Regions from separate parts of the Homo sapiens genome. Here regions 1 and 2 are each linked to region 3. Evidence: fine-mapped expression QTL. A gene starts in region 3. Each other region holds a variant in brackets. All regions are shown on one strand. Distances are from middle to middle.

Region 1 (4,161 bases), 25 kb before region 3:
GCAGAGTTTCCTGGGGGGACTGGTGAGCAGTGACACTGTAAAGGGGCAGAGTTTCCTGGGGGGCTGGTGAGCAGTGACACTGTAAAGGGGCGGAGTTTCCTGGGGGGCTGGTGAGCAGTGACACTGTAAAGGGGCGGAGTTTCCTGGGGGGCTGGTGAGCAGTGACACTGTAAAGGGGCGGAGTTTCCTGGGGGACCTGGTGATCAGTGACACTGTAAAGGGTCGTAGAGTTTCCTGGGGGACCTGGTGAGCAGTGACACTGTAAAGGGGCGTAGAGTTTCCTGGGGGACCTGGTGAGCAGTGACACTGTAAAGGGGCGTAGAGTTTCCTGGGGGACCTGGTGAGCAGTTGACACTGTAAAGGGGCGTAGAGTTTCCTGGGGGACCTGGTGAGCAGTGACACTGTAAAGGGGCGTAGAGTTTCCTGGGGGACCTGGTGAGCAGTGACACTGTAAAGGGGCGTAGAGTTTCCTGGGGGTACTGGTGAGCAGCGACACTGTAAAGGGGCGGAGTTTCCTGGGGGGCTGGTGAGCAGTGAGACTTTTTTCCGGGTCCCAACCCCCCAGGACATCATGCGGTCAGGAGCTCTGGGCTGGCGCAAGCGCACCCCAAGATGCACGGCCCGGCTGTCACTGTGACTGCGGTGGGCTCCTGGCGCTCTGGGTGCCTGGCACTGCAGCCTGAGGTCTGGGGTGGAGGCTGCCACCTGGTGTGCTGGTGATCCTGGGCCACCCAACACCTCCTCCACCAGCGGGGATTTCAGAGGCCCAGGTACCCGCATGGAGAGAACAGGTGCTCAGACCAAGGCCAGGTCCAGGAGGAGGCAGGACCCGGGAGGCCTGGACAACCCCAGGCCTGTCCTGAGCGTTGGAGGGCCGCTTCTGCCCACAGGCTTGGTCCCCAGGCCCAGCAGTGTGAGAGCCAGTCTTCCCAGGCCAGGACAGGGTTCAGGGAGGCAGCTCTGTGGGGCTGAGGCCTGGCCATCCTGTGTCACAACCTCCTCCATGGCCAGAGTGAGGTGACCCTGCTGGGGGTGACCAGGCCTGGGCCTGTGCTTGGCAAGTCTTTGGCTGATGGGACGTTAGACGCCAGGGGCTTCCCAGAGGGGCAGTGGGGGCGGGAGTGCAGCTGAGGATGAGCAGGAGCCTCCCCATCCCTTTCGGGCCCACACTGAGAACATGCAGTTCCGGCAGGGCGGCTTGTGGCCAGCCATGGCCTGGGTGACCCGCAGGTGGGGGATTCTGGCGGGTCTTGAAGTGGAAATGTCCATCCCTACCAGCCGGGCCTTGTTCCTCAGACTGCCAGGAGCCTGCCCGCCGGGTTGCTGCCCCTCTTGGGGGCCCAGGGCTAAAGGTGTCTAGCTTGGCAAGACTGTGAGTCTGGGCCTCCCTCCCTGGCGCTAAATGCATGCCAGCACTCACACGCCTATGCACACATGCCACCCCCGTGCGTCTGGCTGGCTGGGTGCTGCTCCCCGGGGTCCCCTCCTCCAGGAAGCCCTACGGCCTGCGTTCACCTTCTTCCTTCTGGGTAGCGTGACCTCCGATGACCCCGAAGGTGGGGATCCTTATCCGTGGAGAAAACCCGACCTTCCTGACATGCCTGGTGGGTGGGTTCTTCCCTAAAGGCCTGGGCGGCGGGGTGGGGGGGGCCTCGAGGGCCCCGAGTTCCGCTCTCAGCTCACGATGGGCTGCATGGCACCCAGAGCTGGCCTGGCTGGAAATGAGACAATAGCCAGGCCCACCCTGGAGGGCTGGTGTGGGGCGCTGGGGGGACCTGCAGGGGCCTGGAGGGCTGGGCACTCCTCAGCGACCAGGGGCCAGGCCTACCCAGGGCCTCCTGCGGGGGCTGTTCAGATGAGACGATCTTTACCACACGGCCCCACCCACTCACCCGCCTGTCAAGCAGCTTCGGGGGCTCTGCTCTGGGTTTGGAGGCTTGGGGAGCAAGTTCCTTAGAGTGATTTTTAGGAAAGAGTGATTTTCAGGCAAAGCGCTCAGAGCCACCAAGGCCATTCCATGAGGAGCTGGCATTCCAGTCTCCCTGGGA[C/T]CCTCTCGGCCTGTGGCTCGGTGGGCTGCAGAAACGCCGCCACCCAGGGGCCACCCCACCCCACCTGAGACAGCTGGGGGTCCACACCAGCCGCTGGGCATGGGCGAGGCCGACCCCGGGTCTGGAGGCTCCGGCGCCCACCACAGCGTGTCCTGTCTGCAAGGCCAGCCCTCCTTCCCCCGGGCCCCAGCCTACCTGGCCCCGGCTCACCTCCAGGCAGGCCCAGCCCCTGCGCAGGGAACAGCCTGGCTTTGTGTCCTCCCCAGACACTCCGGCGCTGCCTGTGGCTTCAGAAGTCACAGTACAACATTCGGACCCCTCCTCCCTCCCACATGCAGCCACCACTGACCTGGGAGGGCAGGACGGGAGCTGGGCACCTCCAGATCTTGGGTCAGCAGAGAGCAGCTGGGGGACTGGGAGGCCAGTTCACTCTCTCCCCCACTCACTCACCCCCTCCCTCCCTCACTCCCTCCCTCACTCACTCATTCACTCATCTGTTCACTCAATCACTCACTCATTCACTCAATCACTCATTCTCTCACTCACTCATTCATTTATTCATTCACTCACTCATTCACTCACTCGTTCACTCAATCACTCATTCACTCACTCATTCACTCATTCACTCAATCACTCATTCACTCACTCATTCTTTCACTCACTTGTTCACTCATTCACTCACTCGTTCACTCAATTACTCATTCACTCACTCACTCGTTCACTCAATCACTCATTCAATCACTTGTTCACTCAATCACTCATTCACTCACTCATTCACTCACTCACTCATTCACTCAGTCATTCACTCACTCAATCATTCACTCACTCACTCATTCACTCAATCACTCGTTCACTCAATCACTCGTTCACTCAATCACTCACTCACTCAATCACTCACTCACTCTGTCTCTCACACATTCATTCATTCATCATTTGATAAGTAGTTTTTCCTGAGAGCCCACTTGTGCCATGGCCCACAGTGGCGCCTGGATAAACAGTGGGCTCATTCATTCATTCACCATTAAATGAACCTGGGGAGCCCATGGATGTCAGCACTGCAGAAGGCTGGATGGGTGGACCCCTGGGTGAATGGACAGGTGGATGTGTGGACACAAGGGTTCCCTGACCTGAGACTCCAGCTGAGGTGTCCCCAAAGCAGCTGCTGCCCTGAGAGCAGCCCCGCAGCTGGGCGCCATGCCCTCTTCTTTCCTGGGACACAGGCACTCTGCCTTCCTCTCTGGTCCTGGCCACCGCGAGTGCTGACTCTTCAGAGCTGCTTCCACCCTGGCCAGCATGCAGGCTCCTTGGGGTCAGGAAGCATCTGGAGAGGTGTGGGGCCTGCTGGGATCATGGCCCACACTGCACTGAGCACCTGCCATAGGCCTGATGCAGTGTGGCTAATGGGTCCCCTTGGTGAGAGGCTGGGGTCACTGCCTTGTGTTAGGGGCCAGGCTGGCAGAGAACGGGCTGCAGGCCCTCAGCACGCCCATGGAGGAAGGCCATGGGCTGGACCCAGGGACCAGAATGTCGGGCCTGGAACTGGACGTGGGACCTAGCCATGGATGCAAGGCCTGCACGTGGATGTGGGACCCACACACCTTCGTGGTTCTGGGGCACATGGCAGCAGCAGATGCCAGGGAAGGGTCACCCTCTGCTCACAGGGCCGGGCCCTCCCCTTCCTCCAACTCCCAGTCCACCTGCCCCCTCACACCTGACCTTTGTGTCTGCCACAGAAAGGGTGTGATTTCCTGGGAGCCGCTCTGCGCAAAGGCAGGTCAGGGTGTGAACTGAGGCCCTGGCCCCCCCAGCCGTGTCCGCTCTTGGAATTGTCTACATCTCACCATTCACCCCGGCCTCCGAAAGTTCCATCAGCTCCACATTAAAACAGACCTGGAATCCAGCCAGGCCACTGCCTGTCCTCCCAACGGGCTGGGACTTTCACAGCCTGCTGCTCCCAGTCCCCACCTGTGCTCAGCAGCAGAGACCCTCTGAGCATCAGCCACAGCCTCTTGGTGCAGCCCCACCTGATGGGAGTGAACCCCAAGCCCTCACCGGGCCCAGAGGCCCTGGATTGGCCCCTGCCACGGCTCCTCCCAGCACCCTCTCCTTCTTC
Region 2 (4,161 bases), 38 kb after region 3:
GCCTAAATATGTATAGAAAAAAACTGTATAATGGAAAACTGGAATCGAAAAACTTGTTCTCTGACTTCCTGCAATCCGTTTACAGGATGACAATACCCCCAAATTGCAAAATAAGCAAAAAATAGAGACATGAAAAAAAATGCAAGTGGCCTATTAATAAAGGATTGGGGAACATGAATTAAAACCTAGAATGGTATAAAGAGGTTGCCTCATCTAGAATTTATGCCCTCATCCTTCAAACAGTTCATGAGAGGTACTCACAGCTGCTATAATCAGCAAAGCTGAATTCCTTGAGATCTATTCATCCTTCCTTGCTAGAAGACCTGATACATGAAATACGAATTTGAAAAACTCTAGCTAACGTGTGAAATCATCAACCCAGACGAAAAGCTGAATAGGAAACGGACCACAGTGGCTCCTGCATCTGAGAAGGGAAAGGCGTCCTGTGGGTGAAAACCGCTTCCAGCCCATCCTCCTGTCACCCATTCAATGCCCCGTCCCCAAGTGATGCTGCGCCGTGCTGGAATGCAGCCAAGAGGAGACAGTCACGGGACCTGACAGCCAAGAACCGTGAGATTCCAGCTATGGTAAACGCTGGAAGTGAAGGAACATGGCGTTACAAAGACAGGAGAGAGCAGGGCAAGACGGAGAACAGGGGCAGGAGCTGTAAGGGTGTAACTGAGCCGAAGCTCGGAGGACGATGGAGTCATGTGGGGTAGGAGATGGAGCAGTTTACTAAGGAACTAAAACCAAGTAGCAACAAAAGCATGTTTTCAGTAATATGGCAGCATAAATATTCTATAATAAAACCAGACTCTAGAAAACCTCTAACAAACTTTTTTTGAAGAGACGGAGTTTTACTGTCACTTAGGCTGGAGTGCAGTGGCGTGACCACAGCTCAGTGAAGCCTCGACTTCCCAGGTGTGAGCCCTCCTCCCGACTCAGCCTCCCAAAGTGCTGGAGTTATATGCGCGAGCCAATGCGCCCACCACAAACTTACTTTTTAAAGTATTACTGGGCATGCCAGAAAGTGGGAGAACTCTTCAAGGGACACAGGGAGTGGCAAATGGGCAGGAGAGGTGCGCCATCCCTAGCCTGGTCAGCATGGGTCACCCCCACAGGGAGGAGCTGAACCCGACATTCCTCCACCATGCAGGAACCAAGAACTGAAGTCACCACATCATGTATTTTCTAAACCAGGGCATTTCTGAGAGTGAAAGGGAGCTATTAATAATACTGCTGGGGAAACAGGCTTAAGCCAAACCTATCTGTAGCAAAGCAAGATGTATGGTTGCCCTAAAAAGTGTTCCAAGGTTAATAAAAACTGCTAGCTCCCACCAGAAATAAATGCAGGTTCTTTCTGAAAAGCATTCCCAATAAGTTCTACAAAGTACAGCCAGATAAAAAAGAAAAATAAAAAATTAACACAGGCCAGGCACAGTGGCTCATGCCTGTAACCCTAGTACTTGGGAGGCTGAGGTGGGAGGATCGCTTGAAACCACAAGTTTGAGATCAGCCTGGGCAAAAAAACAAGACCCTGTTCTCTACAAAACAAAAAACAAAACAAACAAACAAAAAATGCCAAGTATGGTGAGCCTGTAGTCCCAAGCTACTCAGGAACTCAGGAGGCTGAGATGGGACGATCACTTGAGGGCAGGAGTTTGAAGACTAGCCTGAATAATAGTGAAACTCTGTCTTTACAAACAAAATTAGCCAGGTGCGGTGGTGCGTGCCTGTATCTCAGCTGCTTGGAAGGCTGAGGAGACATGATGATTTGAACCCAAAAGTTTGAGGCTGTGGTGAGCTATCATTGTGCCACTGCACTCCAGCCTGGCCAACAGTGAGATCCTATCTCAAAAAAACAGCAACTGTATTTCTACAGATGAATTAGAAAATGAAAAACAAATTTTTTTGAGACGGATCACTCTGTCGCCCAGGCTGCAGTGTGCAGCGGCACGATCTCAGTTCACCGCAACCTCCGCTTCCTGGGTTCAAGTGCTTCTCCTGCCTCAGCCTCCCAAGTAGCTGGGATTACAGGCGTGTGCCATGACACCCGGCTAATTCCTTTTGTATTTTTAGTAGAGACGGGGTTTCGCCATGTTGGCCAGGCTGGTCTTGAACTCCTGACCTCACGTGATCCACCTGCCTCAGCCTCCC[G/A]AAGTGCTGGGTTTACAGGCCTGAGCCACTGCGCCTGGCCAGAAAATGAAACATTTTTAAATTCCACATATAATGTCCAAAAGCATGCATGAAAGCATGAAATAAGATAAAATTTTTAAAATATGCTTGTTTTAGTATACAGGTACACAAGTATACAGGTCTTAAAAAGAAGACCTGTATACTGAAAGCTGCAAAACACTGCTGAAATTAAAGGCTTTTAAACAAATGGAGAAATATACCAAGTTCATGGATTAGAAAACTCAATGTTGACATCAGTATTTTCCCAAATTGACCTATAAATTCAATATGATCCCAGTCAAAATTCCAAAACGCTTTTTGCAGTAGCTGATAAACAGAAGTCTAAAATTGATATGGGAATACAAAGAATCAGGAATAAATAAAATTATTTTGGAAAGAAAGAACAAAGCTGGACTCACAGTCACTTCCACTTCTAGCCATGATGAACAAAACAAAGGAAACCAGGTTGACCTCAGACAACTCATAAGCCAGACGCCGTGCACGAAACGACGTTTTCAGACGCTGAGAGAGAAGAGAAAGCACAGGACAGTGATCACAGAAGTGTGAAAGCTAAAGAGGGAGCCCCACCTGCCCTCGCTCACGGCGGGGCTTCCAGGCTTCCAGGCTGCGGGGCGGGGAGTCGGAACTTGGCAGAGCCCGGTGGTCTCGAGCATGTCCCGAGCGCGGGAGAGGAGGGAGCTACGCAGACCTGCGGAGGTTCCTCGTGTCTTTGGCTGAATACTGATCTGCATCTGCATTTGAGGAAACCACCCTCAGAGAACCAAAGGGGAAAAGAACTGCCAGGGCTCCCTGGAGGCTGGGAACAGCTTGTGTTTCCACCACCAAGAGTGAACAGCAAGCAGGGTCAGAAGGGTCCGGACTGAACAGTGGGCTTCACAACAACGGCCGCTCTTTTAAGCCGTGTTAGGAGCCACCCGAACACAGCTTAAACGCCAGCCTCAAGAGGAGGAAACGGTCTATGATTAACTTTACTACAACCTAAAACAAGTCTCAACAGCATTTAAAGGAATATAACAAAATCCTGCACCCAATAAAGTAAAATACAAAATGGCTGACAAAAACAACCAGACCTGCGATGAAGCGGGAGAAAACCACCTCTGACCAGGAGAAAAACCAACCAATAGAAACAGGCCCAGACACTGACCAGGAGAAAAACCAACCAATAGAAACAGGCCCAGACACTGACCAGGAGAAAAACCAACCAATAGAAACAGGCCCAGACACTGACCAGGAGAAAAACCAACCAATAGAAACACGCCCAGACACTGACCAGGAGAAAAACCAACCAATAGAAACACGCCCAGACACTGACCAGGAGAAAAACCAACCAATAGAAACAGGCCCAGACACTGACCAGGAGAAAAACCAACCAATAGAAACACGCCCAGACACTGACCAGGAGAAAAACCAACCAATAGAAACACGCCCAGACACTGACCAGGAGAAAAACCAACCAATAGAAACACGCCCAGACACTGACCAGGAGAAAAACCAACCAATAAAAACAGGCCCGGACATAAGACAAATAATAAAATTAGTGGACAAGGACATGAAAACAGCTATTGTAAGAGCGGATATAGTGGTGTGTGCCTGGGCAACATGGCAAAACATCGTCTCTGCAAAAAAATACAAAAATTAGGCTGGGTTTGGTGGCTCACACCTGTAATCGCAGCACTTCGGGAGGATGAGGCAGACGGATCAACCGAGCTCAGGAGGTTGAGACCAGCTTGGCCAATATGGCGAAACCTGGTCTCTACTAAAAATACAAAAAAATTAGCGCGGCGTGGTGGCGCGTGCCTGTAATCCCAGCTACTCGGGAGGCTGAGGCAGGAGAATCGCTTGAACCCGGGAGGCGCAAGTTACAGTGAGCCGAGATTGCGCCACTTCACTCCTGTTTTTTTTTGTTTTTTGTTTTTTTTTTGAGATGGAGTCCCACTCTGTGGCCAGGGTAGAGTGCAGTGGCGC
Region 3 (4,000 bases):
CGTGACTTCAGTTTCAATGCACACTTCTTCACAGAAGAGCCCTGTCCCTTGGCACCCATTGGGGCTCAAGGCCATGTGCCCAGCCTGATAGACACCCAGTGCCCTGCGCTCTCTGCAATAGCAGCCACAGAAGTTGTGGTGTGGTCACCTCTGTGCACACAGGGAGAAGCACCTGGACAGGTCAGTCAGGACAGACTCTCAGGTGAGTGGACTCAGCTGTGAACAACCTGAGTCTGTGAACCCCTGAATTAACAGCACAGCTGGGAAGACATACTCAGAGTTTTACGCTAAAGCATGAGGTTAGTGGTGAGGCTGCAGCCAGACGGTGCGAAGTGCTCCAAGCTGTGTTGGGGATGGGGGAGGCAGCCATCCGGCAGGGTCCCAGACCCTACAGAAAGCTGATGCACCCCAGGTCCCCTCTGTGCTTTTACCTCCCAAGAATCATGAGAAGAAGAGGGGAAGTGACGTAGGAGATGGGATTTCCCTGAGGAGAAACGCACCGAGACAGTCGGGACCGTAGGTTCCTGGAGAGCAGCACACTTTCAGTGTCTTCACACAAAACCACTCGAATAAGTCAGGATATTCGCTCTTCCTGAGGATGGAGGAAAACATTCACTGAATCCCAGCAGACACGGTTCTTTAAAACAAACATGCAGCTGAACGTAACATATGCTCTGGAGTATTGTAAGGTCCAGGAAACAAGAGTCTAGGTGTGGACAGAATCTTCTCCTTAATTTCCTGGTTTTGATCGCTGACTCTGGTGATAAAAAACGGTAATGCAGGGGTAAGGTGGGTGCGAGGCAGGTGGGAGCTCCCTACTGTTCCTGTACCTTTCTAAGTCTGAGGTTATTTCAAATTCTAAGTTGGAAAATAAAAAGTATCTTCTAAGAGGTTTTAAGGCACTCACAGCTGCAGCCACCAGGCCTCCAGGTGCTCCTCCTGCGCCTCTAGCATCTGATTGCATTCGAAGTCGCTGCTCTCGCACAGCCCCTCCAGGATCTCCAGCAGGCGAATCTCGCTGAAACACAGGCCCACACCGGCCCACCGTCAGCGCCTCCAAGGCAGTGAAGAAAAATCCGAACCAATACGCCAACCTGGGTGCAGGGGCCGGGGAGCCAGGACTCCGGGCACAGAGAATAAGGGGACCCCACTGTCAGGGGAAGCCAGGAGCGGTTCCCACAAGTGGGGCTGGTGTTCCAGTTTACATTTTGAAAAGCCACTGTCTGTTGAGGGGGTAGGGACCAGAGCAGAAGCTGGAAGGCCAGAGAGGGGCCAGCCATTAGTCCTCAGGGAGAAGCCGAGGTGACTCGGACGGGTGACTGGTGCCTCGGGGGCTGTTCTGTCTCCCTGTCATTAACACAGGCACCAAAGGCAGGACACGACTTCCCAGGACAGCGCCAGGCCAAGACCCACAGGGGTGCTCCAGGGCACCCACCTGGACTCGTACTTGGACAGCGTCTTTTCCTCCCAAGCCGTGTTCCCGCCGCCAAAGTTCTTCTTTGCGGTGTCCACCATCCCCTGCGAGGAGACAGTGCCCATAGTGCTTGGTACCACCTGACCCGGGTCCAGGGTGGGGGCGAGCCCAGGTCGAGGGTGAGGGGACTCCAGGCCCACGGTGGCGTCGACCCTGGTTCCACGGTGGGGGTGGATCCGGGTCAAGGGTGAGGGGGACTCCAGGACCACGGTGGAGGGACTCTGGATCGACGGTGAGGGGGATCCCGAATCCAGGGTGAGGGGGACCCCGGATCCAGGGTGAGGGCGACCCTGGGCCCAAGGTGGGGCGACCCCGGATGCAGGGTGAGGGGGACCCCGGGCCCAAGGTTGACGACCCCGCCCGGCCCCTTCCCACCTGGTTAAACTTGTCCACCAGCCCCCGGCACCGGTGGCAGGGCGTCGGCTTCTTGGCGGCCTCCGGCGCGGGCGGCAGCAGCAGCAGAAGCGGCAGGAGCCCCAGCGCGGCCCGGCGCGGCAGGCGCATGGCGGGTAGCGCTGCGGGAAGACGCAGCCGGAGCTCCAGGTCCTGCGGCCGTGCTGCTCCGGCCTCCCGGCCGCCCACCCGCTCCCAGCCGCGCCGGCCTGTCCCCCAGGCTACTTGACGGCGCCGGCGAGGCCCCGCCCCACCCGCCAGCCCCGCGCCGCTATTGGTTGATGGGACCCGCCCCGGCCTGATATGGCCCAATCCGAGTTCGCCACGAGAGGTGACCAATGGGAAGGCCCCGGATCAGCGGCCGCCAGGAGTCCGGGGGCGGGGCGTGCAGGTCCGACCCCGCCTCCCGCTCCCCGCCCCTCGCGCGCAGCCCGCGGCGGCCATCTTTACTCAGGGCACAGAGGGTCTCTGCGGCCGTAGCGGCCGGGGCTGCGGTAGCCACTTTAGATTTGGGCAAGGACTTTAGATTCGGGCTCTGTTCTGTTTCCGCCGTCCTGCTTCCTGCCGAGGCTGGCCCAGGCAGCCGCGCTTCGAAGGACGCCGCCGGGAGCTGCGGAGGTCAGTGCGCGCTGCCGCGACCGGGGCCTTCAGGCGGGCGCGCGGCGAGACCAGGGAGGAGGCGGGCGAGGGCGCGACCCGAGCTGGCGCTGGCGCTGGATTCCTGAGGCCTCACCGCGCATGTCCACGCGTCACAGCCCCGTGCTCCTTACCTGGGGCTGCACCCCTCACTTGGGGCCGGGCTCCTCACCTGGGGCTGGACCTGTCACCTGGGGGCCAGACCTCTCACCCGGGGGCCGGACCTCTCATCCGGGGGCCCGACCTCTCACCTGGGGCTGGACCTCTCACCTGGGGCCGGGCTCCTCACCTGGGGCCGGACCTCCCACCTGGGGGATGGGTTTTTCACCTGGGGGCTGGGGATCTGGGGTCCACTTAGGGTCTCTGGGGGCTGGGGATCTGCATTTCTACAGGCGCTTGAGGTGATGAACACTCGCTCATGTTCAGGAACCCCTGGTTTAAATTAGGGGAAATAAAACGTGCAGCGTCTGGATTTCAGAGAACTCCTGCCTGTGGAAGGAAGGAGTGCAGATAACACTGCACATTTAAAAAAAAAAAAAGTAACATCTGATTTGACCAGTTTCTTTTCTGTTTTTTTGAGACGGAGTCTCACTTTGTCGCCCAGGCTGGAGTGCAGTGGCGCGATCTCAGCTCACTGCAAGCTCCGCCTTCCAGGTTCCTGTGATTCTGCTGCCTCAGCCTCCTAAGTTGGGATTACAGGCACCCACCACCAGGTCCGGCTAATTTTTGTATTTTTAGTAGAGACGGGGTTTCACCATGTTGGCCAGGCTGGTCTCGAAGTCCTGACCTCAAGCGATCTGCCTGCCTCAGCCTCCCAAAGTGCTAGGGTTACAGGCGTGAGCCACCATGCTTAGCCTGATTTGATCAATTTCGGTAGAGGCCTTAAAATCTGGATTGATGGGGACAAGAGGGTCTTTGCAGGTCATTCCCTAATCTGAGATGCCATTGTTCTGTAAACCACCATTTTAAAGTGTCATGGCCTGGGCCCGTTTTAACCTGTGGGTGCTCTCGAAGCACCCGTCACTTAGATTAGCCACAGCTGCTGCCCAGCTGCCCAGCAGAGTGGGCTAGTGCAGGACAGTGTCCGTTCACCCTCGCCTGGTGGGGGGTTCGTCGTGGTTTTCGTGCTTGCTGGTGTTGACTTGGTCTTCCCGTGCTCCTGGCAGAGAATCCAGACTCACCCTTGGTCTTCTCATGCCCTCGAAAGTGAGCTGTGCTGGTCATCAGCAGAAGGCACACCTTGTTGGGTCCGAGGAGGTGCTGGGGGCCCGCCAGGAGTGTCAGAGTCAGCACGTAATGTTTTCACCCCACAGCTGAACTCTTCCTTGCTGGGGAACTCCCCTGGGTGGAGAGGTGTGGAGTGGGGTTGTGGGGGACTGCCAAGCAGCACTTGCTGTGTGCACCTCCCACATCTTGGCACGTAGATGCTCCCCGTTCCGTTTTATTTTTTATTTTTGTAGAAATGGGGTCTCATGATGTAGCCCAAGTTGGTCTTGA

What was found. PIP is the estimated chance that this variant, and not a neighbour inherited with it, causes the effect. A credible set is the group of variants that fine-mapping cannot tell apart.
Region 1: its variant is the best candidate, but not a certain one, in a credible set for the expression of ALG12 in whole blood (TOPMed, PIP 0.53).
Region 2: its variant is the best candidate, but not a certain one, in a credible set for the expression of ALG12 in whole blood (INTERVAL, PIP 0.54).

The regions. Positions count from the first base shown.
Region 1 is chr22:49,941,261-49,945,421 of GRCh38, reverse strand. No RefSeq gene overlaps it. Among named protein-coding and RNA genes, the nearest start is that of PIM3, 17 kb to the left of the region's middle. RefSeq lists a silencer at 1,137-1,316 and enhancers at 1,265-1,990, 1,991-2,717. The variant C/T (reference allele first, on the strand shown) is at 2,049.
Region 2 is chr22:49,879,100-49,883,260 of GRCh38, reverse strand. All of the region lies in intron 1 of ZBED4 (zinc finger BED-type containing 4), which reads right to left. It also overlaps a transcript of ALG12 not described here. Among named protein-coding and RNA genes, the nearest start is that of ZBED4, 27 kb to the right of the region's middle. RefSeq lists an enhancer at 1,272-1,501. The variant G/A (reference allele first, on the strand shown) is at 2,158.
Region 3 is chr22:49,916,748-49,920,747 of GRCh38, reverse strand. It overlaps ALG12 (ALG12 alpha-1,6-mannosyltransferase), which reads left to right and starts at 2,310. Exons shown (of 10, transcript NM_024105.4): 1 at 2,310-2,485. CRELD2 (CRELD disulfide isomerase 2) reads right to left here and starts at 2,114. Exons shown (of 10, transcript NM_024324.5): 1 at 1,850-2,114; 2 at 1,436-1,518; 3 at 908-1,018; 4 at 501-592. The coding sequence starts at 1,978. RefSeq lists silencers at 1,911-2,410, 2,521-2,720.